4 linked regions of the Homo sapiens genome follow. The protein of the gene in region 3 purifies or fractionates together with the protein of the main gene of each other region. This does not show direct contact. Each region holds a gene or a part of one and is shown on either strand. Other genes may lie near its edges. The genes, in order: CCT7, SIPA1L1, WDR83 and CWF19L2.

Region 1 (7,019 bases), on a different chromosome or scaffold from region 3:
AGCTGCTGTTTTCCTGGAATAGTCCTTGAGTAATCCCGCAGGTACTTGGAGAGTTCCATCTCAATGGCCCCGCCACCAGCCACCACTGAATCATTCTGCAGAGATCAGACCACCTCTCAATGTAAGAGGGCCCCTGGTCCAAGCTTCCATGCTGGGCCACTCAGTAGGTCCCTTCAGCCCAGAAAGAGTGGTTCTTCATTCCTTCCTCCATCCCAAGCCCCAAACGCCCAGACACAGCCCCTATCTAGAACATCCCAACTTCAACCTGGTGAACCTTATGGTTTCTGACTATTTTCAAGGTCACCTGCAGCTCAAGGACACTGGCACAATTACTGGAATATCTGACTACATTAGCTCCAGTTTGCTAACAAAACGAAGTCTTTTTCTTCTGCTTGCTCTGTTGCCCAGGCTGGAGTGCAGTGGTGTGATCATAGCTCACTGTAACCTCCAACTCCTGGGCTCAAGGCATCTTTCCACCTCAGCCTCCCGAGTAGCTGGGACTGACTACAGGCACATGCCACCATTCCTGGCTAATTTTTTTATTTTTGTAGAGACAGGATCTCGCTATGTTGCCCAGGCTGGTGTCAAACTCTTGGTCTTATGCAACCCTCCCATCTCGGCCTTCCAAAGTGCTGGGATTACAGGTGTGAGCTACCACGCCCGGCTAAAAGAACAAGTCTTAGCTTTCAAGGCAGGATGACCTATTTTTGAGAAACTGAGGCTCAGTTTCTCTACCATTTGTGGGGCAAATCAGGGCTCACCACACCACCCAGGAAAGGGCAGGTTATATAGAGAAGGAATCACCACACAAATCCAAGGTCTGATCAGCTAGGGAGATAGGAGAGAGTAGGCTGTGCAAGCAGGAGGATATCAGCCCAGTACCTTGATGGCCCTCCTGACGATCATGATGGCATCATGCAGGGACCGCTCTGTCTCCTCCATAAACTGCTCGGCGCCGCCACGGAGAATGAAGGTGCATGTCTTGGCCTTGGGGCAGCCAGTAAAAAAATTGTACCTATGCCCAGGATTAAACAGTACACACATGAACTCTTGTCTGCCACCATCCTACTGTATTGTCCTCACTGCCAGCCCCCCCAACACTCAGCAGCTGCTCTTACATTCTTCACTCAGGTTACCCAATCCCAACCTTATAGACATTTTCTTGGAAAGGTCTGCAGCTGTACCACTAGGGCATAAAAGATTGTGGAGTCAAGGCTTTTAGATCTTCCTGTAATCCTGTATATTATCTGAGCTCTTTATGGCTCAAAGGTGAGACTCTGTAAAAGCTGTATACCACTTTGTACACAAAGGTGAGACTTTGTAAAAGCTGTATACCACAGCCAAAAGATGGCAGAAGACCAGACCCAGGCAGGTTTGTGAGCTCGGCCTGGGCCCACGGCTCACCTCTCGCCTCCAATCTGGGTCTCTTCAAACACCTGGCATCGACCCAGCACATCTGCTGACAGAGCATTCACACTGGTCTGGATTGAGCCTCCACAGGCCTAGGGAGCAAGGAAGGCAAGATCTAGCAGTGAAGGTTCCCGAGGCCAGGCAGCTTCCTGCCACCTCGTCTCAAAGCCAATTCCCACGCATGCCCCCAGAGCCTCTACATTACCCGCCCTTTCCCTTGACTTCCAGGCGACCCTTCCCCCTCTCTGAAAGAGCAAAAAAAAAACAAAATAGAACTAAAACACATCAAAGGCAAACAGAAGAAGTTAAAAGGAGATAGGGACCCATTCAATTCAGCTTATACTCCCTCCCCTAAACTAGGGTGGCACTGGGTCCAGCAACTGAACTCAGGAGTACTTTAAACCTAAAAGTATCTTTTGTGGGATGCTCATGAAAGGGAAAAAATCTGGCTGGAAGAATCAATATTTGAGTTTGTCCAGCTAATCATAGCATTACTGCTAGGTTCTCTCACAAACCAGATTTCTGGACTTGTTTTGGTTAGACTAAAGTAGTTTGTGCTACTGGGCACACACACATGGAAATGGAATGTGTCCTGGAAAAAAAAGAGTTAAAAAAAAAAAACAGGGCTCAATTCACACGCCAACCTGACAGTACACTCTGTTATACCAGGGGTCAGTGAAAACCCTTCAGGGCCACAAAGGCCGAGAAGCAGCCTGTGAAAATCTGGTTACCATCATTGTCCTCTTCAGATCCTCCTCAGGTACTCGGCCAGCACAGAACATGTCCCTGTCAGCAAAGTACTGGGTGGCCACATCCCCAATGGGGAGTTTGGACAAGACAACTTTGGCTCCAGAATGATGGATCTTCTCTAACTTGTCATAGAGAATGTTCCACTCAGCATCAACAATTGCCTGATAATCCTGGAGAGACCCAGAAAAGGATGAGAATGCTTTGGGGTGAAGGTTGACATATACGGTAGGGTAAAATATACCCATCTGCCCCCACCAAATAAAACATGCTGATTCATCTGGGAATTAACAGAGATAAACAGAATAGCTACTCCTCAGTCCAAGCAAATAAGGACCCCATGAGATGACTTAGGAATCACCTGAAACTCCCCAACACAAAAGCAGAAAGTAACCCCAAGGCTGAGAACCACAGCTGGTGCTGTCCAGATGCGAGAAATAGTTTAAACTGGCTGAGGTCTAGACTCTTCTGAGGTGCTGGATTCATGGAGTTCCCAATAAGACCCCTTTGGCCGGGCACAGTGGCTCATGCCTGTAATCACAGAACTTTGGGAGGCCAAGGCAGGTAGATCACCTGAGGTCAGAAGTTCAAGACCAGCCTGGCCAACATGGTGAAACCCTGTCTCTACTAAAAATACAAAAAAAAATTAGCTGGGCATGGTGGCACATACCTGTAATCCCAGCTACTCAGAAGGCTAAGGCAGGGGAATCACTTGAACCCAGGAGGCAGAGGTTACAGTGAGCCGAGATTGCACCACTGCACTCCAGCCTGGGCAACAGAGCGAGACTCCGTCTTAAAGGAAAAAAAAAAAAGACCCCTTCCCCAAGAACTGCTCAAAGGTGGGTGACATGGCTACCTCCAGAGGTAGCCTGGGTAACATCAACAATGAGAGCACACCTGTCTCTGCAGCACTAGGTCTAGTCTAGAAGTGGAGGAACTCACACTTGCACCAACAAGAGGAACCAAAATACCGGGCAGGCTATGTAGCTAGAGAGTCCCTGCCATCCCCTTCCCCAGGACCACAGCGTATTTCAACAGGTGTTCCCTATCCAAATTTCCTCAGGTCAAGGTCACTCAGGGAGAACACAGAGTATGGAAAGAAGGGGGCCTAGTACTTAGACATCAATATTCAGGGGGGCAGGAAGAGAAAGGGGCCCACAATAGCCATGAAGACCCAGGGCTCTGGCTCAGAAAGCTGCCCATTTCCATGCCCCCACCAACTGGTGAACCCACCTACCTCAACTGTGTGGACTCTTATCTCAGCATTGTCTTTCTCAGCTTTCAACTCGAGCTCGACATTCAAAAGGGCAATCTTGGGATTGTGGTACTTTTTGGGTTGCATTTCAAACCCAGCGTAAGAGAAAGTCTTCTTGAATGCAACACCAGCTACCAGCTGAGAATCCTGTTTTAAAAAAACAAACACTTTAATGGTTTGGTACTAACATGAAATAAAATCAAGCTAGTTGTTTGCTGGCTAGTGCTTATCCATTCCTGTGAGCCTGAGCTAATCATGTCTTTATTTCACTGCTGTAACACAGCCTTTCTGTTATCATAAAATCGAAGACAAATCCTTTTTTTTTTTTTTAAATAACACAACATATTATTTCAGTCACCCCTTAAGCATAAGGAAAATCATCTGGTTAGCAGAGGCAAAGCATGGTAAAGGCCTACTGGGCTGTCCTCTAAGACTGGCCTCTGCAGCACTGGCCGATGGATAATGCTGTACAAACTTCCAAAAAGTATGCCAGAAGAGGAGCCAGGTGTTTACAAAGAAGGCAAAACAAAAGCTGTGCAATGCTACCCTCTTCTATGCCCCAGCTCCCAAATCTCAAGTATCCTCCTGTACACCTCCATGTACCCATAATTTGCACTGCACCCTCCACCCCCACACCCCCAACAGCATGGATACTATAGCCTTGACGCTTCCTCCCTCCAGAAGATGATGCCAAAAGGTCTTAAGAATCAGAAATCCCCTGCATAATTTCTAAGCTATCACTGCAGCTCCTCAGACCTCAATCCCTCAAGGTAGGGATCTTCTACCACTTGTTCTGCAACAGAGCTTCTCTGTGGGTTGGATTTAACAGCAGGGCATAATAGAAAGCACACTGCACCCAGGGCTGACTCAGCACTACCGTGAGACTTAGGTTCCAATCTCAGATCTTTTCCTTACTAAATGACCGAGTCATTTCCCACACCATAAAAAAGGGTATTCAGTTCAATAACCTTTAGTTTCTCTGCCAGTGCTCATCTACAATTCTAATCTATAATACTGTAACCCATGGGTGAAGAGTATCTGTCCCCAGTTCCTGCATCATTCAAATCCACAGCTTCCTAAAGGGAGTGATGCCTGAGCTGAATGACAGATGAGCAGAAATTAGTCAAAGAGAAAAAAGGAAAAAAGGGGTTCTCCTAAGAGGTGGGAGGCAGTGTTGTGGAATCAGAGAATGAAAAGCCATTTGAAGTTGCTAGAATTTAGAGGGTAAGAACCAGCCAGTGAAGAAGAGAGAGGGGAAGTAGGCAGGGGCCAGTTTAGAAGGATCTTACAGGCTTTGTTAATGCCTGGCTTTGTATAGGGAATGTAGATATCAGAAGGCTTTACGCAGAAGAATAAAGTAGGAAACTTCACCCTGCAAATAGTAAATAAGTACAATGGATTTAGGGGATCCAAGACTGGAAGAGGGGTGGCAATAGTACCAGAAAGAGTAAAAGAGACAGACTCAATAAATAATTAGGAAATCACGAGGTAAAATGGAACAATGGTAATTGACAGGCTGGAGTCAGAAGGGTTTTCAAGGATGATCCCAGATTTCTGGTTTGAGTGACTGAATAAACGGTGGTGACACCAACTATGACAAGAAATACAGAAAATGCTATCACAGGAGTGGAGGACAAGATAAAGCGTTTAACAGCAGTTAGACACAAGAAAGAGCATGAGGCTCAGAGGAGAGGTGAGTACTAAAGATATGGATCAGAAAATTCCCAGTTAACCCTGGTAACAAGTAAATAATCACTACCACTATTTATTGAATTCTGGGTCAGGTTTGTATGTATTTAACGAATGTAGGACAGTCTCGGAAAAACGCAAGTGTGGCTTAGAGTCCCTGGCTCTCTTGCCAGGTAAGATTATTAGTCCTGATTTCTAATCTATGTAGATTAGAAATGGATGCCATTTCTAGATTAGAAGTGGATGCCAATCTAATCTCAACCATTTATGGAAGTAGGAAGGCCCAAGAGAAGATGAAAAATCGCTACTAAAGCAGTGAGTAAAGACAAAGTCAGCAAGCCATGATGAAGATAGGGAAATGGCTCAGATGACCTCCAGGTTCCTCACAGCTTTATTACATACAGAGAATCTCAGCCCACTGGTCTGACATGTGCCACAATAGGAGGGGAAATGGCAAAGTGGGAATGCAATTTGGGAGGGTAAAATTTAAAGAGAAGGGCCAGGCTATCTTTCAAGCTGGTCCTCCTCTATCCAAATCGCTTCAGTTGAGGTCACTGACGAAGAGTAATAAGTAAAGCAGGCCAGAGACTGAAAAGGCCAAAAGCAGCATGGAGATACCAAGGACGTTTCCAGACAGATACTACTGTGTTAAAAAGAAGGAGTTGTGCTGTCCAAGACAGTAGCCACTAGCTACATGTTGCCATTTAAATGGAAATAAAATTAAGATTCAGTTCTTCAGTTACATTAGTTGCATTTCAGGTGCTCAGTAGCCAAGTGTGGATGGGGCTATCATATTGGACAGCGCAGATATGTAACAGTCCCACCACCCTACAGAAAGCTCTACTGGAGGGTGCTGAGTTAAGAGCTACACACGCTAATGTGGATCAATTTCTAAAATATGTTGTTAAATGGACAAAAGCAAGCTACAGAACACTATATAAGCAATCTTTTGTCTTTAAAAAACAGTATTTACATACATGTTCATATATGCACAAAGTAATTCTGCAAGGATACACACAAACTAATAGTGGCTGTATATGGGGCAGGGGTAGTGCATGAAACACTTTTAACTTTAGGCCCCTTCACAGTTTGAAATATGTATCATCTATTCAAGATAAATGAATGAAAGAAGGGCAAGCTTAACAGTATCACTTAGGAGTAAGCAGTGAACTGAAAAATCCCTCTCAGATGTATTAATTGGGAGGTCATTGATGATTTGAGCTAGTCCTACTACCCCTCCACCACCCACTGACACAGAGAACCTGAGATTCTGAAAATCATACAGTCCAATTTTCTACTCTGCTGACAAATAATATCCACAGAGGTTACCAAGTTCATCTAGTAACAGCCTCTAATGGCAGTATGGAAAGTACAATGTAAGTCTGACTTCCTGCCTAACATGCATTCTCTTTATTCCTGTAATGAGTACCCCTCTGCCATATGAAGCTGTCTGAAGGGTCAATATGAAAGCAAGAGCTGTCTAGGAAGGCCACAGCAGGCTTACCTCGAGGGCTCCACCCTGTACCTTCTTGATTCCAATCATTTTAAGCTGCAGCAAATCATCGAGCATCATCACTGCATCCACCACCATCTTAGCAAAGAAAGCTTTCTGCTGGGAGATCAGCTTGGAGCTCAGAGCGGTCATGGCACACTTTTCCAGCAGCTTCCTCTGCTCCCTGGGACACAAGGGCAGAATCTGCATCAGGTCTTGAAAACCAAATCCCTCTTATCTGATTCTACTACAGTGTGGAGGTAGTTCCCTTCCAGTCTCTAAACTCAGCCCTCTCCAACTTCACCTTTTGTATCTTTAGGGCAGATTATCAGTGACAGATGGTGACTGCAGTCAAAGATCTCATATGTGGCAGCTTTTAAACTACAGTCGACAGCTTCTTTTGTGCTCTGTGGGCTGGGACACAGC
Region 2 (7,804 bases), on a different chromosome or scaffold from region 3:
GCACTGATACGGACCAATAACAATGATAATACAACGGTAAGGACTGATAAGAGGCACATAGTCACATTATTAATCATGACAAACTTTCCATCAAATTCCACTCTCATACCATTTCAGCTCTCCTCATGCTCCCATTTCACAGCTCAAACAGATTTTTAAAAAAAGAAAAACAGTCATTTATCTAAAAATTCAGATTGCAACTTAAGATAGAACATATATACATCACAACTCAACCAAGATCCCCCCGAAGTCTACAAAACTGCTAATCTCAAGCAATCTTCAATCTATGACTTCAATAAACTCACTAGAAAGTGTTTTTTAAAAGTTCCTAAACAATGAAGATGGGGGCACTATACCAAAATTACACACATACTTCAAAGCAAAAGCAAAGCAAATGCAGAAGCCTGAAAATACTAGTGTAAGGACAGAGACAAAAGAAGAGTTAAATGAATCTCAGTACAAAGTATCAGAGAGGTGCTTTGCAATTATTACCTGGAGTTGAAGTCAACCTTGCCATAGACTCCTCCAATGAAATCACAACTATCACTGACTGATACTTCAGATTTTAAAAGTTCACTGTACCAGAATTGCAATTTCAAACTCGAGGAGCAGAAGCAGGAACTGCAGAGAAGCTAACAACAGCAACACCTACTGACTGTCTCAAGCCACTCACCAAACTTGTTCACTCAGTCAACTAGAAAAATCAAATGACAGTCAACTTCAAGAGTCCTTTACTTAAGCATTAATAAGAAAATTAGTTGTCAGAGACATAAAGCCATTCATCCCCCAAATCTCTTATTTTGCCTCTAACCATTTATGTGGAAACAATCACTCATCATTTTAAATGCACTGTTAATTGTTAATGCTTTAGCATAATTGATTCCATGGGAAAAATGTTTTAATATTAATATTGTAGTTAATAACTGGGATGTCATCTAATAGTTGGACACATCGGTGGCCATAATAAATTAGCTGAGACCTACTGTTATTACCACTGTTCCATATTATCCTCTTTTTTAAATCCTGGTAAAGGTAGCTTAATTGCAGCTTTCAAAAAACGAAGAGAAAAATGACAGTCGTTAAATCAGGATTATATAGAAAACTAATATTATTACTAAACTGGCTGCAGAATTCAGTATGATCTAACCTTGCACGTTTCCAAAAGATTCAGTCAGAGAATCTTTGCCTTGGACGGATACTCCATAGGAGAAAACAGGAGAAAGTTGACACTTAACTCCCACAGAGTACCAGCATAAAGACAATGGCTTTAAGAGTCTGACTCAGAGTTTCAACATGAAAGGTTTGCTTTATAGAGGAAACGCCAATCCCAGTCCATCCAGATAGACCTGGAACCTGATGAAAGTCGACACCTTTATTCTGAAATTTGCATCACATCGCTGGCTCCAGTTTAGAAACATGATCGTTTCACAGGTAGTATGCATTTCAGCGAATGCTGCCTCTAAACTACCCGTCAGGAAAAATAAAATCTATAAGGTAATCGTAGTCTAGGAGCCATCAATCCCCAAATGCTTCTCTTAGAAAACGAATGCCAACAATTTAGCTAAACATCTTCCTTGGAAGTGAGCCATTTCCCATGTCTCTCTGTTCTCCAAACCGCGATGAAATTTCAACCTGCCCAACACGATTACTGGTCCACCTAGAAATGCCGTGGAGCGATTTAAGAGCCTCGGAAATTTCCTTTAAGGTCAGGAGAGAAGCTGGTAACAGATGGGGCGAAGGAGGAAAAGTTCTTTTTGCGGCACCCTCACGCCTTCCCAGCCCTTTCGCGGTTTACTCGCTCCCCGGAAAGCAGGTTAGAGCATCCCAAAATTTCATGTCCCCAAGACCCCCAAAGGGGAAATTAACCACCCTCGGGCACCGAGCTGTTCGTCTCCATTTCCCACAACTCAACCAACTCGGCCTGCCTACTCCAGCTCAGGCTGCAAAGCGCTCACCCAGGTGACTGGAGGGGAAGGGTCGCCAGGTGGCGACCAGCTCAGCGGGGTGGACGCAACCGCCCGGACCGGGACGCGGGTCTCCTGGCCTCCCGCAGAGACGCCTGCCCAGTAGTTGTGCAGATTCGGGTTCTGGGGTGCGTGCGCGCGCGCCGGGCGCGGTGAAGCCGGACTCGCCCCCGCCGGGCTAAGCTACCAGCAAGCCACCAAATCGAAAATCAAACTTTAACCGGCCTCCTGGGGTCCTGCTCCGGGCCCTGGACCCCAACCCCGGCCAGAAACAGGGCAGGGGGCTGTCAGCCGTCCTGCACCCCCGCTCCCCCCAGGACCCGGGCGCGGGGACCACTTACCGCTCGGCCCGGCCTCCCGGTGCCGCCGCGCGTCCCGGGCGCGTCCGCCGCGCGCTCTCCCTGGGGAGAAAGAGAAACCGTGTAGACGGCCGGCGCGCGCTCACTCGCCGCCTCCTCTGCGGAGAGCGGCGAGGCCGGCCCGAGGCGGGCGCCGAGCGCGGAGCGGAGGGGGGCCCGAGGGAGGCGGGGGTGGAATCAGCCCAATTCCCGAGGCTGGCTCCGAGGGGGACCCGGAATACAGGCTGGCGGGGGGCCGGCGGGGGCCGAGCTCCCGGAGGAGGGGAAGGCGGAGGTGGCCCCGTCCTTGGGCATCAACTATTGTCTAGGCGCCCGGGCCCCCGCTCGCGCCGTCCCCGAGGCTCAGCGCCCCCATCCCGCCCGCCAGCAGAAAGAACTGAGGGGGCGGCCAGTACGGGAAGCAAGTGCGGGGGTCCGGGCTCCGAAGGTCCAAGGTGGGCGCGAGGTTGCCGGGGGGGGGATGAGGAGGTGCGTACCGCATGGGGGAGGGGACAGGTAAGTGCGGACGGGGGCGGGAAGGCCCCAACGACCGGTGGGGGAGGAAATGGGGAGGGAGCCACAGAGGCGGGAGGGAATGGAGTGGCTGCGGGGGCGGCCTCTGGGGCCCAGACCTGGCCCTCCCCGGGGACCCTCCAGCCGGGGACTCGGCGCTGCACTGACTTTTCGCTCACTCGCTCACGCACGCACTGAACTCGCTCACAAAGTTGCCGGCAGTGGCGGCGCCTCACTCGCCCTTCCCCTCCCCGCCCCGCCTCCCGCCCCATTCCTTCCCCTCCTTCACTCCTCCCTCTCCCCCAAGTCTCGGGTGAGATCACCACGGAGCGGCTTAGCGCGGCGCACAAGTCTCGCGAGAGAAGCGGCGGCTGGGCCCTGCAGGCGGAGGAAGTGGAAAAAGTCGCGGGAGGGTAGGGGACCGCGGAACTTCTGGTTGCTATGACGACGGCAAAGCCCTGGATTCCTGTCTCCTGCGGAGAGCAGAGGCTGCAAACGTGGGTGCAGTTTTCAACCTGCCCGGCGCACTGGCGGTGGGGAAAGCTAGGGGTGGTTGCGGAAGGATAATTTTTAAGCCGATTCAAGAGGGCATCTCGAGAGGACCACAGTCATGATATCTGGCCAAATTTGGCAAATGAGACTAATGTATTAAGAGGTTCTGGGACAGGTTTCTGCCTTTCTAGGCAGCACATATCTGCACCCCAAATTTCTACTATATATTCAGTTTTTCGGCCTTCTCTTTCAATCTAATTCCTCCATCCCCACACTCCCCATGCTGCCTCCCTCCTCCTCTTCTCAACTCGCAAACACACGCAGACTGGGCTCCTTCAGGAACTGGCTCATTCATCTCTGTATTCTCAGCGCCTCTATAGGCTTGGTCCATACTACATATTGGCCACTTTTTTGACAAGTTGAACGCAACAGTCCATGCCTGTCCTCAGTACTTGCCTTTGGCCCTAACCTAGAGAGTTCAGTCAAGTTTGGACTCTATCAAGCTACCCTCCCATTTCTGTTAACACCTTGTCTTTTTCAATGGTAATAATCTCTGCTTTCTCCATATTTTTCTCGTAAAAACCCTATTCACCATGGTGAGGGGAACTTTTTTTTTAATCATTAGGCATCCGCAGACGCCTTTATACGTACTCCAAAATGCTAGTAAGGATGAAGATGAACTCTCCTCAGCCCGTGTCTTTTAACTGTAGAAACTTTTCTGAGGTGAGGGTTATTATATACTCACTGCCTAAGTAAAATGGATATTATGAATAGAAGTTAAACTTTAGATTTCAAAATGAATGAGTAAAAATAGATACCATTGTATGTGGATTATATCTCAATTTTTAAAATTCCTATCCATGAACATGGGGAAACCATTATTTAACTCAGTCCCACAGAACTAGAAACCTAAAGCATAACCTAAGCATATGAGGACTAGGCAGTCAAAACTTGTAAGTCACTTGCAAGTTTAAATCCTGTCAATGAAAGTTTGTGTATTAGAAACCTAAGTGATACTAGACAAAGTCAGCAAACTAGGGTTTACGTTTTTCTGTGCCACTAATAATTGAGTCTCCTTGAGAAGTTATTTAATCTCTCTGATTCTTCATCTGTGGGGGGTACCCCACATGTTAGGTTATTACAGCTTTAAAATTCTATAGCTGGCCGGCATGGTGGCTCACATGCATAATCCCAGCACTTTGGGAGGCCCAGGTGGGAAGACTGCTTGAAGCCAGGAGTTTGAGACTATCCTGGGCAACATAGAGAGACCCTGTATCTACAAAAATAAAAAATATTAGCTAGGTATACTGACATGCACCTGTAGTCCCAGCTATTCAGGAGGCCGAGGCTTGAGAATCACTTGAGCCCAGGAGTTAAAGGCTGCAGTGACCTCTGATCACACCACTGCACTCCAGCCTGAGCAACACAGTGAGATCCTGCATCTAAATATATATACACATATGTATGTGTGAGTATATATATATATATATATATATATATAATTTAATATAAGAGCTCTTAGACCTATAAAATTTTCCAATAAATAACAAATCTTCCTTTTACAGCAAATGATAAAAAAAGTTTCATCTTATAGTAGGTCAGTTTCACAAAGAGTAGCTATATGTTGACAATTTTCTTTAAATGTTGACAATTTTATTTTAAAATTTATCTTGTCCCAACTACAAAAACAACAAAAATATTGACCATGTTACAGTAATTTCAAAGGTAATCTATAGTTCATGATTTGCTTTTACACTAACTCAAAGCAGATTCCTTGTTATTTAATAAATACTCTAATTAAAACCAAAGACCCAAACTAAATACATCCATACTCCCAAAATAACTATAAGGAAAGAGGGAGGGAGGGAGGAAGGAAAGGAAGGAAGGAAGGAAGGAAGGAAGGAAGGAAGGAAGGAAGGAAGGAGCGAAGACTAGATCTGTGGAAGGAAGGAAGGGAGGGAGGGAGGAGGGGAAGGACGGAGGGCCTCAGATTCATTTACTGGTGTGTTTAATATCACATTTTCACAAAGAAACACAATGGAACATCACCATCAGTCCTGTGAATCTGTTTTAAGGAACCATTTTTCATAACATTGCAAAATATTATAAATCAGTTGTTGCTCATTTGTTCTGGCTTAGCTTTTAACATAATTTTGCCCTTAAAAGATGGCTGCCAATCTACATCCACCAACGCAGTACAATTTCAGGACCATCTGTTTTATGACTCCCAGATAGCCATTTGAAATAATTGACCCAAATGCTAGCCAAATCTATTAACATTCTTCAGTGCTTCATATAAGGCTCAAGAGATGGGTGTTGGCCTCAAATTACAAAAATAACCTCCCTAATCTTCAGACATAGTAAAATAGTAGAAATTGTCCCAGGGATCTAAAACTGCTTTTTCAAGGCCCTGGGCTACTATTTATCCCTCACTGATGGCAGAACTTTCATCCGTGTTTCTAAAGGAGATAAAAAGTGAAAGCTACCAAAGCCTAGTTTCCAACTGCACATTCTCTAGGTCAGTCACTCCTGCTGTATCTTCCTGACCTTCCTAGGTTTCAAAATAGCAGATGTCAGGCAGCAGAAGAGGGAAATGCGGAATGGAGAGTTTGCCAAGAGCACAGACTAGATCTCAGTCCACTTCCTGTCCACTGTCTTGGCTCCTCTACCCATCTCTGCTCAACCCCTTGCCTTTGCCCTCCAACACAAAGGATATGTAACCTTTCTAGTGATAAGAACATCTAGTCATTTGCTATGTTGTTCCCTCCCTATTTGCTTCTTATTTCGTTAAAACCCAGGTGAATTCATTTCCCTCTGGTTATTTACCTCTACTCAACAAAACACCCTAATGTATAGTGTATACCAAATATAGAATGAATTTTGACACAGAGGCCTACCATACAAATTTTATGTATTTTTTAATATTATAAACACTGACTCACATTTGCATGTTTTACATTTAAAATCTGATTTAACTGGCCTATTCAGAACTCCAGTAGCTGTACATCTGCAGGGCATTATTCTAAGTGATATTTAGAAAGATTACTCTAAATCATTACAAAGGTCCAAAGTGCCCTCAAAATTATTCAGGATTAAATGATATCCCATGTTGTTTTAATTTTAGGGTGTTATTATTTTAGCCTTATTGATGTAACTCTGTTTACATGAATACTGGATTCCTTAGCAAATGCCCCTTCTCTCATTTACATAGTAGTATTCATTACAAGTTTAAAACACCAACTACTTTATAACGTTGTTATAAATAATTATAACGTTCTGTTAATCAATTAACAGCAAAACTACTATACTTCCCTGTGCTCTTCCCTCCTCTTTAAAGGACTGTTTCACATCTTCTCCTCCTTAATCAAACCTCTGCCTAGTACTTCTAGCTAATGGCCTTGCTCCCTCTTTTGTTGGTAAAATAGAAATAATCAGAAGAGAACTGAACACACATACCCTCTCTATCACTCTTGTCTACCAACCTGCCTGCATCTGTCTGCATATACTCCTCTGTCCTTCCTGTCATTTATGAACTCTTGGTGCTCTTAGCCAAGATTAGCCTCGGTCTGTGCATTAGTGCCATCACCTCTAACTCAGGGACATTGATTCAGCAACTGTCCCCACTCTCTCTTGAATCAGCAAATTTTCCTTCTCTACTGCTTCACTTCTAAGGGCTTACAAGCATACTGGAATATCTGCCGTGGTAAAAACTAAAATGCTTCCTAAATTTTATGTCTCCCCCTGCTTCACTTTATAACTGGAATCTTCAAAAGGCTCTTCCATGCTTGGTGTCTTCAATTCCTATCCTTCCCTTCCCATGAATCCACTCTGAGCAGCCTTTCACCCCCACTACTCCACAGCAACAGGTCTTCTCAGGGGCATCAGTGACTGCCTTATTGCTAAATCTGGTGCTCAACTTCCAAGCTCACCTGGCTGGAGCCCTCAGCAGCAGGGAAGAGGTCAACCATGCTGGTTCTTGAAATGTTTTCTTCCCTTGGCTTCTGAGCCAAGAGTCTATCCTAGTTCTTATCCTACCTTTCTGGTCTTTTTAGTCTTGAACCTCTCAACATAGGAGGCTCCAGGACTCAGACTTTGGACATCTCTTTATGGTCTCTTTTCACTCTGTGGTGAGCTCACCAGTCTGATAGTTTTAAATACCATCTATACATTAAATACTCCCAAACTTACACCTCCAGGCTAGTCATCTCCCCCATCTCCAGATTTGTACATCCATCTGCTACTCAACATCTGCAATTGATTATGTACTAGGTATTTCAAATTTCACATGTTTAAAACTGATGAGCTCCAAATATTCCCCCAAAAACCAGTGCCCTCCTGAACTCCAGATATCCCTCTCAAAACCGGTTCCCTCTGGGAGGCTGAGGTAGGTGGATCATGAGGTCAAGAGATCGAGTCCATCCTGGCCAACATGGTGAAACCCCATCTTTACTAAAAATACAAAAATTAGCTAGGCATGGTGGCGCGTGCCTGTAGTCG
Region 3 (7,785 bases):
GCGGCTTTGGCTCAGGGAAAGCCATGCTCCCAGGACTCCTTCCTTGCAGCCTTAAATCGGTCTGTACGGAAAATTCCGCGCCTTAGAAACCCACGCTTGGGTGTAACCTTATTATTGTTCTTCCTGACCTACTTCCTGTTTATCACTTCCGGGTTCATCATTTTGGCATTTCGGTGATCGGGTTGGAACTATTGAAGCCCGCTTTCAGGTTCTTTTCCCCATTTTCCCTTTGAAAGGAAGACTTCTGGCTTCTCCTAAATCTCCGTTCTCTGGGTAAGGGGAGTCCAAGCCTCTGTCATGAGGAACGGAAATGCGAGGGCCTCGGGTGTTACTCTAAAATCCGCCCTCAGCTTGCACGCCGGAAGCTGCGATTCCTGCAGCGGAAGAGGCGTGATCTGGCCTTCGACTCGCTATGTCCACTAACAATATGTCGGACCCACGGAGGCCGAACAAAGTGCTGAGGTGAGGACCCCAGCGTCGTGGGCACGGGTTCGGGTTGTGGGTGTGGATCGGGGCCCTGGGAAGCGCCTGTCTATCCCGGGGGCAGGACCTGAGCGCCCCTGACCCTCGAGCCTGTCGCAGGTACAAGCCCCCGCCGAGCGAATGTAACCCGGCCTTGGACGACCCGACGCCGGACTACATGAACCTGCTGGGCATGATCTTCAGCATGTGCGGCCTCATGCTTAAGGTGGGCGGGGTTGAGCTTCTATGGGTGTAGTTGGACCTGAGAACGAGGCCCGGGGGCGGGTTTGGAATGAAGCGGGGTGTCTTGTCATTGCTGATGGGGCGGGACCTGAGATCGGCCGGGAGTGGGGCTGCGATGACGCTGGGCCGAGAAAGCCCCAGTCTTTGGTGAAGTCAAGGATTCGAGTCAGGTTGGGGATGTGGCAGATTGGTCTGCGAGTGGGGCCAGGCTTTGAAGCAACTTGGAGAGGAGTTGTGGAAAAAGGGCAGGGTCTTAAGCATGTGGGATGTCAGAGTCTCTCTTGGTCCTGAGAGACGCAGGCCAGACAGTAGGACTAGAAACCACGTATCTAGAGTATGCCATGAGCAGGTGGGACTGAGGAATTCCGGGTGGGGCAAGGTCCCAGCTGCATCAGATGGAATCAGTGGGCATGATCTGGTGTCTGGAAAGGTGGCTTCGGGGACTCATTGTTGTGCCTTTCACTAACCTGCCCACCCACTTACCTTTCCCTAGCTGAAGTGGTGTGCTTGGGTCGCTGTCTACTGCTCCTTCATCAGCTTTGCCAACTCTCGGAGCTCGGAGGACACGAAGCAAATGATGAGTAGCTTCATGTGAGACTTGCCCTACAGAACAAGTGACTCTTGAGTAAGGGGTGGGGGGACCCCAGCCTGGCCATCCTAGACTGACACCTCTCTCCTGTCTCAGGCTGTCCATCTCTGCCGTGGTGATGTCCTATCTGCAGAATCCTCAGCCCATGACGCCCCCATGGTGATACCAGCCTAGAAGGGTCACATTTTGGACCCTGTCTATCCACTAGGCCTGGGCTTTGGCTGCTAAACCTGCTGCCTTCAGCTGCCATCCTGGACTTCCCTGAATGAGGCCGTCTCGGTGCCCCCAGCTGGATAGAGGGAACCTGGCCCTTTCCTAGGGAACACCCTAGGCTTACCCCTCCTGCCTCCCTTCCCCTGCCTGCTGCTGGGGGAGATGCTGTCCATGTTTCTAGGGGTATTCATTTGCTTTCTCGTTGAAACCTGTTGTTAATAAAGTTTTTCACTCTGGCTGTCAGCCTCTTCTGTTCAGTGGGGTGTTCCTCCTACCTGGCGGGAAGGGCTCTAGCCCCATAGGCCTGGTGTGGGGCCCCAGTCTGGAGGCTTCTGGCTGTTCATTTGCTTACTTCATAAACCTTGTGTCTTAAGTCAGGTGCTAGGGACAAGACAGTGACTTCTGCCCTCTGGCAACTCACCAGATGGCCCTGCTGACCTAGATAATCTAGGCTTTGGTTTCCTTTTTTTTTTTTCCTTTTTAAGAAAGAAAATGGTCTTGATCTGTCATGCAGGCTGAGTGCAGTGGCACAATCTATGTTCACTGCAGCCTCAAACTCCTGGGCTCAAGCAATCCTCCCACCTCAGCCTGCCACGTAACTGGGACCACAAATGCGTGCTACCATGCCCAGTTAATTCTTGTTTTTTTTGAGACAGAGTTTTGCTCTTGTTGCCCAGGCTGGAGGGCAATGGCATGATCTTGATCTCGGCTCACTGCAACCTCCGCCTCCCAGGTTCAAGTGATTCTCCTGCCTCAGTCTCCCAAGTAGCTGGGATTACAGGCATGTGCCACCATGCCCAGCTAATTTTTGTATTTTTACATTTTGTGTAAAATTACAAATTTTGTGTTTTCAAACCCGTCTCTACAAAACAACCCATGTTGCCCAGGCTGGTCTCAAACTCCCAGGCCCAAGTGATTCACCAGCCTGGCCCTCCCAAAGTGCTGGGATTGCAGGCTTGAGCCACTGCGCCTGCCCTGGGCTTTGTTTTCTTATCAGAGAATGAACTGGTAGGAATTGGGAAAGGCATGAAAGACTCGGGGTCCTTCCCCACTTGTCAGACCCTCTTTTCTCTCCGGAACACCCAGGGATCCTTCTCAACCAGGCTGGATCCCATCCCTGGTACTCCAGGGGTATTTACCCAACGTCCCAATCCCCACAGTATAGGACTCTTCATCAGATCCTCCTCTTAGGCAAGCTAGGTCCTTCCAGGACCCTAGCGCTGAAGGTCCATGGGACGGACACCCTGGATTCCCATGGACACACTACACCGGCTAGGAAAACCCGGCCCCCTTAGGAAAAGCACTTCTGCTCCTACCGGCATTAAGAGGCATTCCGTCTTGGAATTCCGGCATTAAGAGGCATTCCGTCTTCATAGCCCGTGAGACGCCAGTGTCACCTTTAGCCCAACCAGTGCCCTGAGGGTGGCATTTTCCTACCTTCCTGTAACGACCCCCGGGATTGCCCAGGGCTACAGCCTCTCTCCCGTGAGCCTCCAGACCGCGCCCTGGCCCCGCCCCCCACCCCGATTGGCCCGGCCGGGTCTGGGGGCGGGGCGTTTGCCCGGCCTTTCCAGGGCCGGGGAACCCCAGGAGGAAGCTGCTGAGCCATGGGCGCCTACGCGCGGGCTTCGGGGGTCTGCGCTCGCGGCTGCCTGGACTCAGCAGGCCCCTGGACCATGTCCCGCGCCCTGCGGCCACCGCTCCCGCCTCTCTGCTTTTTCCTTTTGTTGCTGGCGGCTGCCGGTGCTCGGGCCGGGGGATACGAGGTGAGTGGGGCCTCCGAGCTGAAACGTACAGGAGGCAGAGTGAAACCCAGAATACAGTCTAGAGGTGTGGGTGGGTCTGTCCTGTGGGTGTCTAGTGAATGGCTGATGATATGACAGTGTGGTCTGAGTGCGTGCTTTGTGTCATTGCGAGGTCTGGCTGTGCGCATCTGAGTATAGGACTGTGTCTGATTGTACCTGCCTCCGTGTCTCCGGGATGCTTGCCTAGACTTTGTCTGCACTTAACTGTGGGATTGGAGGGGCAGGAGGTGGCAGGGGGTGAGCAGTGTATGTGTGGGGGGAGGTGCTGGCTGAGAGCTGGGACTCTGGAGTCTGCCTGAAATTCCAGCCTAGCTCTTACACTTCCTGAGTGTGTGACGTTGGGCAAGTCACCTATCCTCTCTAAGCCTCAGTGCCTTCATCTGGAAACTGGGGATAACATCACCCCACCTCCCACGGTGGCCGTCTGCTGTCGGCAAATGCTGAACAAACATCAGCTACTTCTATTATTATTTTCCCGGAGTGTGAATGAGAGCTGCCCTGTGGGGTTGTGCAAAGTGGAGTTGTATCTATGAGCACAACTATGTATGTGTGTGTCCTGCCTGGGAGGGCCTGGCCTCCTCTGCACATAGGCGAGATCAGGCCTCTCTGAGTCACTCACCTCTAGATCAAGACTTACTCTGCAGCCCCCGACCTCGGGGGTTATTGACAAGGTATGTGTGTTTGGGGTCCCTGTGCAGACATGCCCCACAGTGCAGCCGAACATGCTGAACGTGCACCTGCTGCCTCACACACATGATGACGTGGGCTGGCTCAAAACCGTGGACCAGTACTTTTATGGAAGTGAGTAGAGGATGGGGACTGGTCCCTGGGATCCCCATGGTCCCTGTAATCCCTCTGGGTCCTGGACATTAGGGTGGGGCCAGTGCTACCCTAATATCCAGGGTTTGGGCTCCTCTGTCTAGGAATAACCCCCTTGGCTCTGCTGTTCCCTGAGAGCCTTATCCCTGTTATCCACAGTCAAGAATGACATCCAGCACGCCGGTGTGCAGTACATCCTGGACTCGGTCATCTCTGCCTTGCTGGCAGATCCCACCCGTCGCTTCATTTACGTGGAGATTGCCTTCTTCTCCCGTTGGTGGCACCAGCAGACAAATGCCACACAGGAAGTCGTGCGAGACCTTGTGCGCCAGGGTGAGCCTACCCCAAGGAAGTGAAAAGAGGAAGCCCAGCCCAGCTTCTGCTTCTGCATCTCTGGTTTCTGAGATTTGTCATGCCACGTGCAAGCTGTATAACATGCGTGTCGCTCCGCCTGCCTGGACTCTCCATTTGGAGACCTCCTATACATCCCACAAAGCCCCACCTGCTGTGCATCCTCTGGGAAGCCTGCCATGCAGGGGGCCTCTTTCCCATATCTGGGAACTATGGCCTGGGAGCGACCCCTCTTGTCCTTCCGCCAGAAATGTGTACACAGGCAGGCTTTCACATTCCCAGTATCACCCACCCTACTCCCACTCCTGGCTCTGACCGCTGACCCTGACCTTGCCTGTCCTGGCACAGGGCGCCTGGAGTTCGCCAATGGTGGCTGGGTGATGAACGATGAGGCAGCCACCCACTACGGTGCCATCGTGGACCAGATGACACTTGGGCTGCGCTTTCTGGAGGACACATTTGGCAATGATGGGCGACCCCGTGTGGCCTGGCACATTGACCCCTTCGGCCACTCTCGGGAGCAGGCCTCGCTGTTTGCGCAGGTGCGACCCGGGACCTCTCTTGGGCCCACTTCTTCACTCACTCTGGCTCCTCCCTCGCCCAGTCAAACCCCGCCCTCTCCCTGCAATCTCACAAGGACCAGGCCCAGGCCTAGGCCTGTTGAAGCCCTGCCCCTTGAGTGAGCCGTAAAGCCAGTGGCTTTTGAGCTCTGGCCTCAGCCGGCTATGCCCAGCCCAGGCTGACCCAGCTCCGGCTGGCTCCGCCCTCTCCCCTAATAGGCCCCTCTTGGTGTTCTGGCCCCACCCACTAGCTCGGGTCCTGGCTCCTCCCTAAACCGGGTGGCAAGTGGATGCCTAGGCTGCCTTAAAAACAGGTTCATTACCTGTGCTCAGACCCCATCCATCCTCAGGCTGTGGAAGGGGGAACCTCATTCCTGGAGTCAGGCCTGCTCTGCGCTTTGACAGTGCTGGGGAGGTGAACCTGGGTTCTGATGTTGGACCCGCCCTCTCCCTGCTAGCCCAAGGTGGTGAGTTCTGAAACTTCCCCAAGCTTGGAAATAAGCTGGAGGCCTCTCTGTTTCAGCCCTACGTGTTTTTGTTTTTGTTTTTTGAGACAGGGTCTTGCTGTCATCCAGGCTGGAGTGCAGTGGTGCAATCCTAACTCACTATAGCCTCAATCTCCCGGATTCAAGCGATTCTCCTGTCTCAGCCCCCCTAGTAGATGAGACTACAAGAGCGCACCACTACGCCTGGCTAATTTTTAAATTTTTTGTAGACAGTCTGCCCGTGTTGTGCAGGCTGGTCTCAAAAACTCCTGGGTTTAAGTGATCCTCCTGTTTTGGCCTCCCAGAAGGCTGGGATCATAGGCAAGAGCCACCACATCGACCTAGCACTGCTTTTTAACCTGTGCTCTGACCTGCCCCTCCCAAGCAGAGGGGAGTTTGGTGGTGAGAGGGCTGGGCACTAATTCACACTGCCTTTTCCTCCCTCATCCCCAGATGGGCTTCGACGGCTTCTTCTTTGGGCGCCTTGATTATCAAGATAAGTGGGTACGGATGCAGAAGCTGGAGATGGAGCAGGTGTGGCGGGCCAGCACCAGCCTGAAGCCCCCGACCGCGGACCTCTTCACTGGTAGGGGGCTTGGTGAGGGCAGGGCCAGCCATGGTGCCACACACTCAGAAGGGCCCTGGGCTTGATATCTGCTCTGTTGTCACTGTCCTGGAATTCCTATAGTCTGGGAACAAAGGCCCTGCATTTCCTTTTGCATTGGGACACAAATTCTGAAGCCCATCCTGGGTGGGACATGGCCGGCTTTGAAACCAGGGAAGGTCTGGGTGATGGGCCACCCCTTGAACTTGGTGTGACCTGCAGGTGTGCTTCCCAATGGTTACAACCCGCCAAGGAATCTGTGCTGGGATGTGCTGTGTGTCGATCAGCCGCTGGTGGAGGACCCTCGCAGCCCCGAGTACAACGCCAAGGAGCTGGTCGATTACTTCCTAAATGTGGCCACTGCCCAGGTAACCCTGGTGTCCAGAACCTTCGAGTCCGGTATATACAATACAATGAGCTCTTTCCATGGTACAGGCATCCCCTAACACGTTCTCCTTATTTTTAATTTTTTTGAGACAGTCTTACTCTGTCACCCAGGCTGGAGTGCAGTGGTGCGATCTCGGCTCACTGCAACCTCTGCCTCCTGGGTTCAAACAAGCACATCCAGCTAATTTTTGTATTTTTGCACTGGGGTCTCATCATGTTGTCCAGGCTGGTCTCAAACTCCTGAGCTCAAGTGATCTGCTTGCCTCGGCCTCCCAAAGTGCCGGGATTACAGGCATGAGCCACCGCACCTGGCCTCTATTTTTAACATTTTTATTTATTTATTATTATTTTTTTTTTTTTGAGACAGAGTCTTGCTCTGTCACCCAGGCTGGAGTGCAGTGGCATGATCTCAGCTCACTGCAACCTCCGCCTCCCGGGTTCAAGCGATTCTCCTGCCTCAGCCTCCTAAGAAGCTGGGATTAGAGGCACCTGCCACCACACCCAGCTAATTTTTGTATTTTTAGTAGACAGGGTTTCGTCATGTTGACCAGGCTGGTCTTGACCTCAGGTGATCTGCCCGCCTCAACCTCCCAAAGTGCTGGGATTACAGGTGTGGGCCACTGTGCCTAGTCTATTTTTAACATTTTTATTGAGAATTCCTTTTTTATTTTTTTTAGACTCACTCTGTCGCCCAGGCTGGAGTGCAGTGGCACGATCTCGGCTCACTGCAACCTCCACCTACTGGGTCCAAGCGATTCTTCTGCCTCAGCCTCCCGAGTAGCTGGGATTACAGGTGCCCACCACCATGCTCGGCTAAGTTTTATGTCTTTTTAGTAGAAAGGGGGTTTCACCATATTGGCCAGGCTGGTCTCGAACTCCTAACCTTTTGACCCACAGCCTTGGCCTCTCAAAGTGCTGGGATTACAGGCGTGAGCCACCGCGTCCAGCCTTTAACATTTTTATAATTAAAAAACATTATTTTTTCACAGAGATAAGGTCTCACCATGTGGCCCAGGCTGGTCTCAAACTCCTGAACTCAAGTGATCCTCCTGCCTTGGCCTCCCAAAGTGCTAGGATATAGGTGTGAGCCACCATGCCTGGCATAACACGTTCTCCTTAAAAAAATTTTTTTTTCCTTTCTTTAAAAATTGATGGCTGGGCATGGTGGCTCACGCCTATAATCCCAGCATTTTGAGAGGCCGAGATGGGCAGATCATCTGAAGTCAGGAGTTCAAGACCAGCATAGCCAAAATGACGAAACCCTGTC
Region 4 (7,019 bases), on a different chromosome or scaffold from region 3:
GCAATCAGATAAATGCGAACAAAAACAATGAAATACCATTTCTCACCCATTTATTAGGCTGATAAAAAAATATATAAAGTTTGACAATTACAGATACTGAGTACTGGAAAAGAAACATATGCTCCTGGTACAGTATAAATTGGAATTCCAGATTACCAGGATTGTGTGATGCCCCTAGGAAAGTCATCAGCTTCAGCACTTCCTTACTTCTCTGGATTCATGCTTTTGCCTCATTTTTTGGTCTCTACAGATTTCCTATTGCTTCCTTACTAGCAAAGTGACAACAATAAAGTATAAAATAAGCATGCTTATTTTACATTATATCCACCAGAATTTCTAGATGTCTTGAAATGGAAGTATTTTCATGGTGTCTAATTCAGTATGTACACTGAAACAAAAATTGAGTGAGTTCACTTTCAATTTAATGATATTAAACTCAATATTCACTCAACTTTATATATGCCCTAGATTTATAAATCTAGTAAACCTTTAAACTCACTTCCTATAGGAAATTTATTTTTCTTAAACTGATGTATTTCATAGTTGTTCTCACTAATTGTATTAAATACTATAAAAAATAAAATGGTATTTTACAAGTTAAACTGCATTTATATAAATGTCTTGTAAGTTTATTAAAGGTAAATTAGAAAGTTAAAGCATTTCAAATATTCTCTTACCTGTTCAAGCGCTTGGTTTTTCTCTTGCTCTATTTTCCTCATAGTTTCCTTTTCAGCTTTGAGTGATGATGATGACACAGTTTTAACAGACATAAAATCAACAGTCATCCACTCATCCCTCTGTTAAAAAAAAAGACATAAAATCAACAGTCATCCACTCATCATTTCAATCTGAACTGATTAGAATTTAATAAACACTTGGTAATAAGAGCAGGGACTTTGGAGGCAATCAAACCTGAAACAAGTCCTACATGGCTATATAACTTGAAGCAAGCTTCTAAATCTCTCTATACTTTAGTCTCTCCTCTATAAAATGGTATAAAATCCCTACCTTTCAGGATTGTTTTAAAGAGTAAACAAGATAACAGATCTAAAGCATCCAGCCCAAAGCCTGGCACACAACAAGCAATCAAACTTAGTTCCTGTTCACCTTTCTTCCTTCACCTGTGGCTAACAGTGGACAAATTACATTCTTCCTGAGGCAGATGAACTATAGCCCAAAATTTTTGAACTATTCAACTGTTAAGTATTGTTAAGAAAATTAAGGCATGAGGTGAAGGGAAAAAAAACTGTGATGGAACTCCACTCACTATAGAAGGGTCAGACAGAGATACAGTATAAGGCTTTAGGGACATAAGGGGAAAGTGCCACTTCTTATCAACAATCAAAAGCATGAAAGCCTCTAAGGAACGAGAATAGAGAGGAACACTCACTTTCTCACAGTAGAAGGGGAAGGGGGTTCTAAACATTCAGCAAACAGCAGTACTGCCAAAATTATTCCTAAAGTATATTGTTTTCAAAGTCTAATTGTTCTCCTGAAGAAATTTTAATCATCTTTCATTTTCATATTCATTTATTCTCAAAAGTTGATACTTTTTTCTTTAAAACCAAGTGATAGGCCAGGTGCAGTGGCTCACGTCTCTAATTCTAGCACTTTGGGAGGCTGAGGTGGAAGGATTGCTCAAGCTCAGGAGTTTGAGACCCAGTCTAGGCAACATAGGGAGACCCCAACTCTACACAAAATAAAAAAATTAGCCAGGCGTGGTGGGCACACAACTGTGGTCCCAGCTACCAGGGAGGTCGAGGTGGGAGGATTACTCGAGCTTGGGAGGTCGAGGGTGCAGAGAGCTCTGATTGTGCCACTGCGGCCCAGCCTGGGCAACAGAGTGAGACCCTGTCTCTAAAATGAATGAAAGAGAGAAAGAGAGAGAGAGAGAGAAAGAGAAAGAAAGAAAGGAAGGAAGGAAGGAAGGAAGGAAGGAAGGAAGGAAGGAAGGAAGGAAGGAAGGAAGGGAGGGAGGGAGGGAGGGAGGGAGGGGGAGGGAGGGAGAGAGGGACAGAGAGGGAGGGAGGGATAGAGAGGGAAGGAGGGAGGGAGGGAGGAAGGAAGGAAGGAAGGAAGAAAGCAAGGAAGGAAAATCAAGTGGCTTGCTTACCTTGATAATTTGGGTGTCATCTTTTCCTGACTTTTCATCTTTCACTTTCCAGGCTTTTTCCTTGTCAGGAGTCTGGGATGGAACAGCCTCAACCCACTCATCTTCAGAGCTCTAAGAACATTTAGCATATAAGTGAAATTGTCAAATTTGCATACTTTGATATAAAAATTCTGTGCTGTTAAGTGGTAGAAATTCAACATCGTAGAAAAAAATTCTTACACTGTATTTCCCCTTTACAAAATGGCAATGAAATTTTAAAGAGCTGGGTGTGGTGGCTCACACCTGTAATCTCAGCACTTTGGGAGGCTGAGGCAGGCATATTACTTGAGGTCAGGAGTACAAGACCAGCCTGGCAAACATGGTGAAACACCATCTCTACTAAAAATACAAAAAAGTTAGCCAAGCGTGGTGGCGCATGCCTGTAATCCCAGCTGCTCAGGAGGCTAAGGCAGGAGAATCGCTTGTACCCAGGAGGCAGAGGTTGCAGTGAGCTAAGATCACACCACTGCACTCCAACCTGGGCCACAGAGACTCCGTCTCAAAAAAAAAAATTTTTTTAAAGAAAAAACATATAAACCCACTAGTTTGAGTTAAGCCCACCAAACACAACCAAATTATTTTTATTTTCTCATCCATTTATTATCAAGCCAAGAGAAGGCAAAAAAACAAAAATGGGAACTGCCAAGTAGAGACCTCACTTCAGCACAGAGCTTCAGTGACTACCAACGTCAAGTAGTTACTCACATCTCTGCTTCACTAGAACAGGGGAAACACCACCCAGGTAAACGAATTTGCTGTTTGCCCCTAAGTTTCACATTTTGAGATTTCCCTTGATCTAAAACTGCAGATAACATTATCTTCTTCAACACCCTCCTGAAGCTTTATACCAATTCCCATATTCTCAGCAAATGATGTCTTCTTTTACCTCATCAAGAAAACTAGGGCCACCTTATCCTCCTACCCACCGCCCAAAACATTTATGGCTGTGCCTATCCTTATTTCCAGTTAACTCCTCCTATTTAAGGCAGATCTTGCTCTAAAGATTTTGATAACTCTTTCTGTTCCTCCAGGACCTTGCTCCATCAATTATCTTCTCCTCTCACGGCATTAACCAAAGATCCCTAATGGCCTAGAAACAATTTCAAGCATTTCCCACCCTTTTTTTTTTTTTTTTAAGGAGGGAAGGGGGACCTTCCTTGACCCCGTATATTCCTCCTCTAGCAGGAATTAATCTTCCGGCTTCCATTCTCAGATGAACTTCTTGAAAGAGTAGTCTACATGCACCGCCTTCACACTCTCACTTTCATACATTTTCTCAAAACTCTACAATACATCTACTGTCCCCATTAATCTACTGAAACTTCTCCAAACTCACCAGTGGCTTCCACTGTGCCGAACTCAACAAAACGTTTCAGTCTTCAGCTCTCTAGACCTCTCTGCTTAATGCAACTCTGTTGATAACTCACTTTCCTGGCTTCCATGACACCTCTCAGCTCTCCTCCCACTCTGTTTCTTCTCCATTTCCTTCATGAACTCTTCCTCCTTTGCTTAGCCCTTAAATATCTTGTTATTTGGGATTCCATTCTTTGCCCATGACATTTTTCAATGTCTAAACATTCCCTTTGGGCCATTAAATCCATTCTGATCGCCTGAACTACAATAAATTGTGCTGATATCTTTCAAATTTGTCTAACCAAAGTTTCACTGACTAATTGTCTACTGCAGTTGGATGGCATGCTAAACTCAGTAAGAACAGAAGATAAAGCTATCCTCTTCTTCTACAAAATCTACTTCTCCTTGTATAGTATTGAACTGAGTTATCTGGAACAACCAACCACCCACTTAAACCAAGTCAGAAACTCAGGATGATGTTACCTCACATATTCAAGCCTACCATTTTCATTTTTAAAATATTTATTAAATATACCATAGAGTGAATACATGATTACCATACGAGCCTACCTCTATCCCTGGCCACTACTGATTAGTTCAAACGTAGGTACCTGACCCAATTCACATCAACCTGAGCCATTCCACAGGAATCTGAAATCAGGTCTAAATGGGCTTATCTAAAACTAAGAAATGGGAAGGCATTGGGAGAGGCCATTTCTGTCATGAGAAATAGAAATCAGCAAAAATTTTTTAAAAACTAGAACTCAGGGTAGGGGAAATGAAAAATGGCAAGAAAATTGCAAAAACCATTCACAATTCTAATTCCAGCTATTCTTGAAGCCTAGCTGCATTCCTACATCTATATGTCTTATGAGAATTTTGTACTTTAATAATAAATCCTTTTTGCAAAATCCAATTTATATTTAGTTTCTGTTACCTGCAACCAAAATACCAACTAATATTCTCTTCTTTGATCCTTAAAGTAGCACCCCAGGCTGGGCGCGGTGGCTCACGCCTGTAATCCCAACACTTTGGGAGGCCGAGGCGGGTGGATCATGAGGTCAGGAGTTCGAGACCAGCCTGGCCAAGATGGTGAAACCCCATCTCTACTAAAAATACAAAAATTAGCCAGATGTGGTGGCGCATGCCTGTACTCCCACCTACTTGAGAGGCTGAGGAAGGAGAGTATCTTGAACCCGGGAGGCGGGGGTTGTGGTGAGCCAAGATCGTGCCATTGCACTCCAGCCTGGGGGACAAGAGCAAAACTCCGCCTTAAAAAAAAAAAAAAAGTAGTAGCCCTAGATCAGATCTTATCTCTCACCTAAACAACTGATTCCAGGAGACCTAATTAATCTCCTGGACTCATCTTTCCTGCTCCCCTTCTTTCTCCAACCCCTCACCCCAAATACATTTAGAGTAATATAAAGGGAACATCTGACCACCGTACTTCTCTTCTAGGGCTTCCCATTACAAAGACTGCTAGTTATCCCTCTTCTTTCCTACCAACAGAATCCCATTTTATTTGGAGAAGTAATGTACTTCCCATGCTAGAAAGTGAAGCCTTATGATCAAGTGTCCAATTAGATGTAAACAAAAGTATTTTATGGGACTTTCTGGAAGTCAAGTTAAGAAAAAAAAGAGCATCTTCTTTCCTGTTATCTGGACTAAGAGGCAATGCTGTAAGGATGATGGAAAAGCAAGACAATAGAAGCCTAGGTCCCAGAAGACCATACTAGCCCTAGACTGTCTACCTGACTTATTTCATATCAGAAAAAAATGAATTTCTATCTTGTATAATCAATGGCTATTCTGAGATTTTCTAATAAATGCAGCTGAACCCAATTAGATGATACATTCCCTACTGAATAAAGTCAAAGCTCTTGGTTTACAAGGCCCTATTAATTCTTACAGTTTCATCTCCATTCACCCCCTCCTCTTGTTTTATAATTTAGTACTATCAAATTGCTTATAGTTATATTTACATACATACACACATACTCACACTCATATTATCTCATACTTCCATGTCTCTGCTCTCGCAATTCCTTATGCATGAAATGCCAAGCACACCTTTATTTGCCTAATGCTTACTAATCTATCTAGTCTCAATTCAAGCATCATTTAATCAACAAGTTAGCAAATGAAATCCCTCTTAATACCCTGTACTACCATGGCATCATGTTGGATGGTATGCTAAACTCAGTAACAACAGAAAATAAAGCCAACATCTTCTTCTACAAAATCTACTACAAAATCATATTATTAATATTATGTATCTATTTATCCAATTAGGAAATGAGTTCCCCAAAGGTTTAAAAATATATTTTTATATTCCCCATGTCTAGAACAGTGTCTGGCAAAGAATAAGCATTTGATAAATGCAAGCTGAAATTAAATGAAATGTCTTTTTCTACTCTTTCAATAGCACTAGTCAGAAACTTTTAAGCAGCAACCTATACTCATTTTCACAATTATGCACTCACTCACCTTACCACTTCAGCAAAATTGATGCTCCCCATGCTACGACTTCAGTTCTCTTGCTAATTTTAGTTTCAATCTCCATTTTACCTTGAACTCATTAACTATCAAGCTTAATACGCCTCCTGACCTAACACAGCCTTCAGGGCTCTCCTTCTCTTGTGCAGCCTGCAGAATTAACCACACCTCTAATTCTATCTAGTGGTCAAAACCTAGAAGGTGGAACTAAGACAGAAAAGTGCTACCAGCAAAACTCAAGGGATCTTGAGGACTTCTGCTTCTGTCCTTGACAAAATAAATGGCATCAAACTAGAAATACATACAAATTGGAATAAAAATGAAACTACAATCTCTACAGCTTTTTATCTAAAGGCACTTTCTAGACTGTGGCATAGAGGGGTAACCCAAGCAGAACATGAAAATCTCACTGAGCAAAGGAAACGGAATTTGAACTTTGTGAAGGCTGAAACAAAAGTACAGATGGGAAGTTACACAGAGAAAGGGTGCCAGAAATCTACTTAAAGGACCCCTGGAGTCTTTAAAGAAAGACCAAGCTGAACATGCTGAGGATGAGAGTCCACAAGGTCAGGCAAAGAAAAATTACCATGGAGAAAACAATTACCAAAGAGCTGTAAGCAGAACAATCCCCAGAGCTCACAAAGGGCTGGAAGACATTCTAGTTCCTCCCAACCAGAATAAAGAAACCTCGCTGAACATCCATGACAATCAGCAGAGAACCCACAAAGGTCATGCCTTAGTAGAAAGGCTAAACCAGTCCTAGAGTAAAGCTATTCTAGGTGCATACGAACAAAACTTAAAAACAATCCTTGAAAAGGATTAAGCTAATTCACAAGTAATTAACTGTATGCCAAAAGGAAACTCAATACTCTCTGAAGAAGTCAACAAAATCCAGCAGTCACAATATAAGTTTCATAGGGTTCAGCATCCAATTAAAAGTTACTAGACATTCAAAGAAGCAAGCAAATGTGACCCATATTCAAGAGAAAAATCATTTAATTGAAACAGAACAGGAAAA

Evidence for each region.
Region 1: the proteins of WDR83 (region 3) and CCT7 purify together in Homo sapiens (affinity purification with mass spectrometry; 4 studies listed by BioGRID and IntAct, with this or other methods). This does not show direct contact.
Region 2: the proteins of WDR83 (region 3) and SIPA1L1 purify together in Homo sapiens (affinity purification with mass spectrometry; 4 studies listed by BioGRID and IntAct, with this or other methods). This does not show direct contact.
Region 4: the proteins of WDR83 (region 3) and CWF19L2 purify together in Homo sapiens (affinity purification with mass spectrometry; 4 studies listed by BioGRID and IntAct, with this or other methods). This does not show direct contact.

Annotation. Positions count from the first base shown.
Region 1 is NC_000002.12:73,244,302-73,251,320, reverse strand, and holds part of CCT7 (T-complex protein 1 subunit eta), read right to left. Parts: intron 6,778-7,019; coding exon 6,606-6,777; intron 3,560-6,605; coding exon 3,395-3,559; intron 2,331-3,394; coding exon 2,142-2,330; intron 1,503-2,141; coding exon 1,405-1,502; intron 1,016-1,404; coding exon 883-1,015; intron 96-882; coding exon 1-95. UniProt on the Homo sapiens protein: Component of the chaperonin-containing T-complex (TRiC), a molecular chaperone complex that assists the folding of actin, tubulin and other proteins upon ATP hydrolysis.
Region 2 is NC_000014.9:71,315,683-71,323,486, reverse strand, and holds the start of SIPA1L1 (signal-induced proliferation-associated 1-like protein 1), read right to left. Parts: upstream 3,012-7,804; 5' UTR 2,984-3,011; exon of another isoform or gene 2,366-2,983; 5' UTR 2,306-2,365; exon of another isoform or gene 1,956-2,305; intron 1,814-1,955; exon of another isoform or gene 1,639-1,813; intron 553-1,638; exon of another isoform or gene 1-552.
Region 3 is NC_000019.10:12,662,031-12,669,815, reverse strand, and holds the start of WDR83 (WD repeat domain-containing protein 83), read right to left. Parts: upstream 3,010-7,785; 5' UTR 2,824-3,009; intron 1,744-2,823; exon of another isoform or gene 1,458-1,743; coding exon of another isoform or gene 1,391-1,457; intron 1,309-1,390; 5' UTR 1,297-1,308; coding exon of another isoform or gene 1,199-1,296; 5' UTR 1,189-1,198; intron 689-1,188; coding exon of another isoform or gene 583-688; intron 463-582; coding exon of another isoform or gene 413-462; exon of another isoform or gene 401-412; intron 64-400; exon of another isoform or gene 62-63; 5' UTR 26-61; coding exon 1-25. Other genes in the region: WDR83OS (PAT complex subunit Asterix), read left to right, coding at 413-462, 583-688, 1,199-1,296, 1,391-1,457; MAN2B1 (lysosomal alpha-mannosidase isoform 3 precursor), read left to right, coding at 3,115-3,273, 4,011-4,113, 4,291-4,464, 4,831-5,024, 5,981-6,113, 6,354-6,499. UniProt on the Homo sapiens protein: Molecular scaffold protein for various multimeric protein complexes. Acts as a module in the assembly of a multicomponent scaffold for the ERK pathway, linking ERK responses to specific agonists.
Region 4 is NC_000011.10:107,440,826-107,447,844, forward strand, and holds part of CWF19L2 (CWF19-like protein 2), read right to left. Parts: intron 2,225-7,019; coding exon 2,114-2,224; intron 798-2,113; coding exon 678-797; intron 1-677.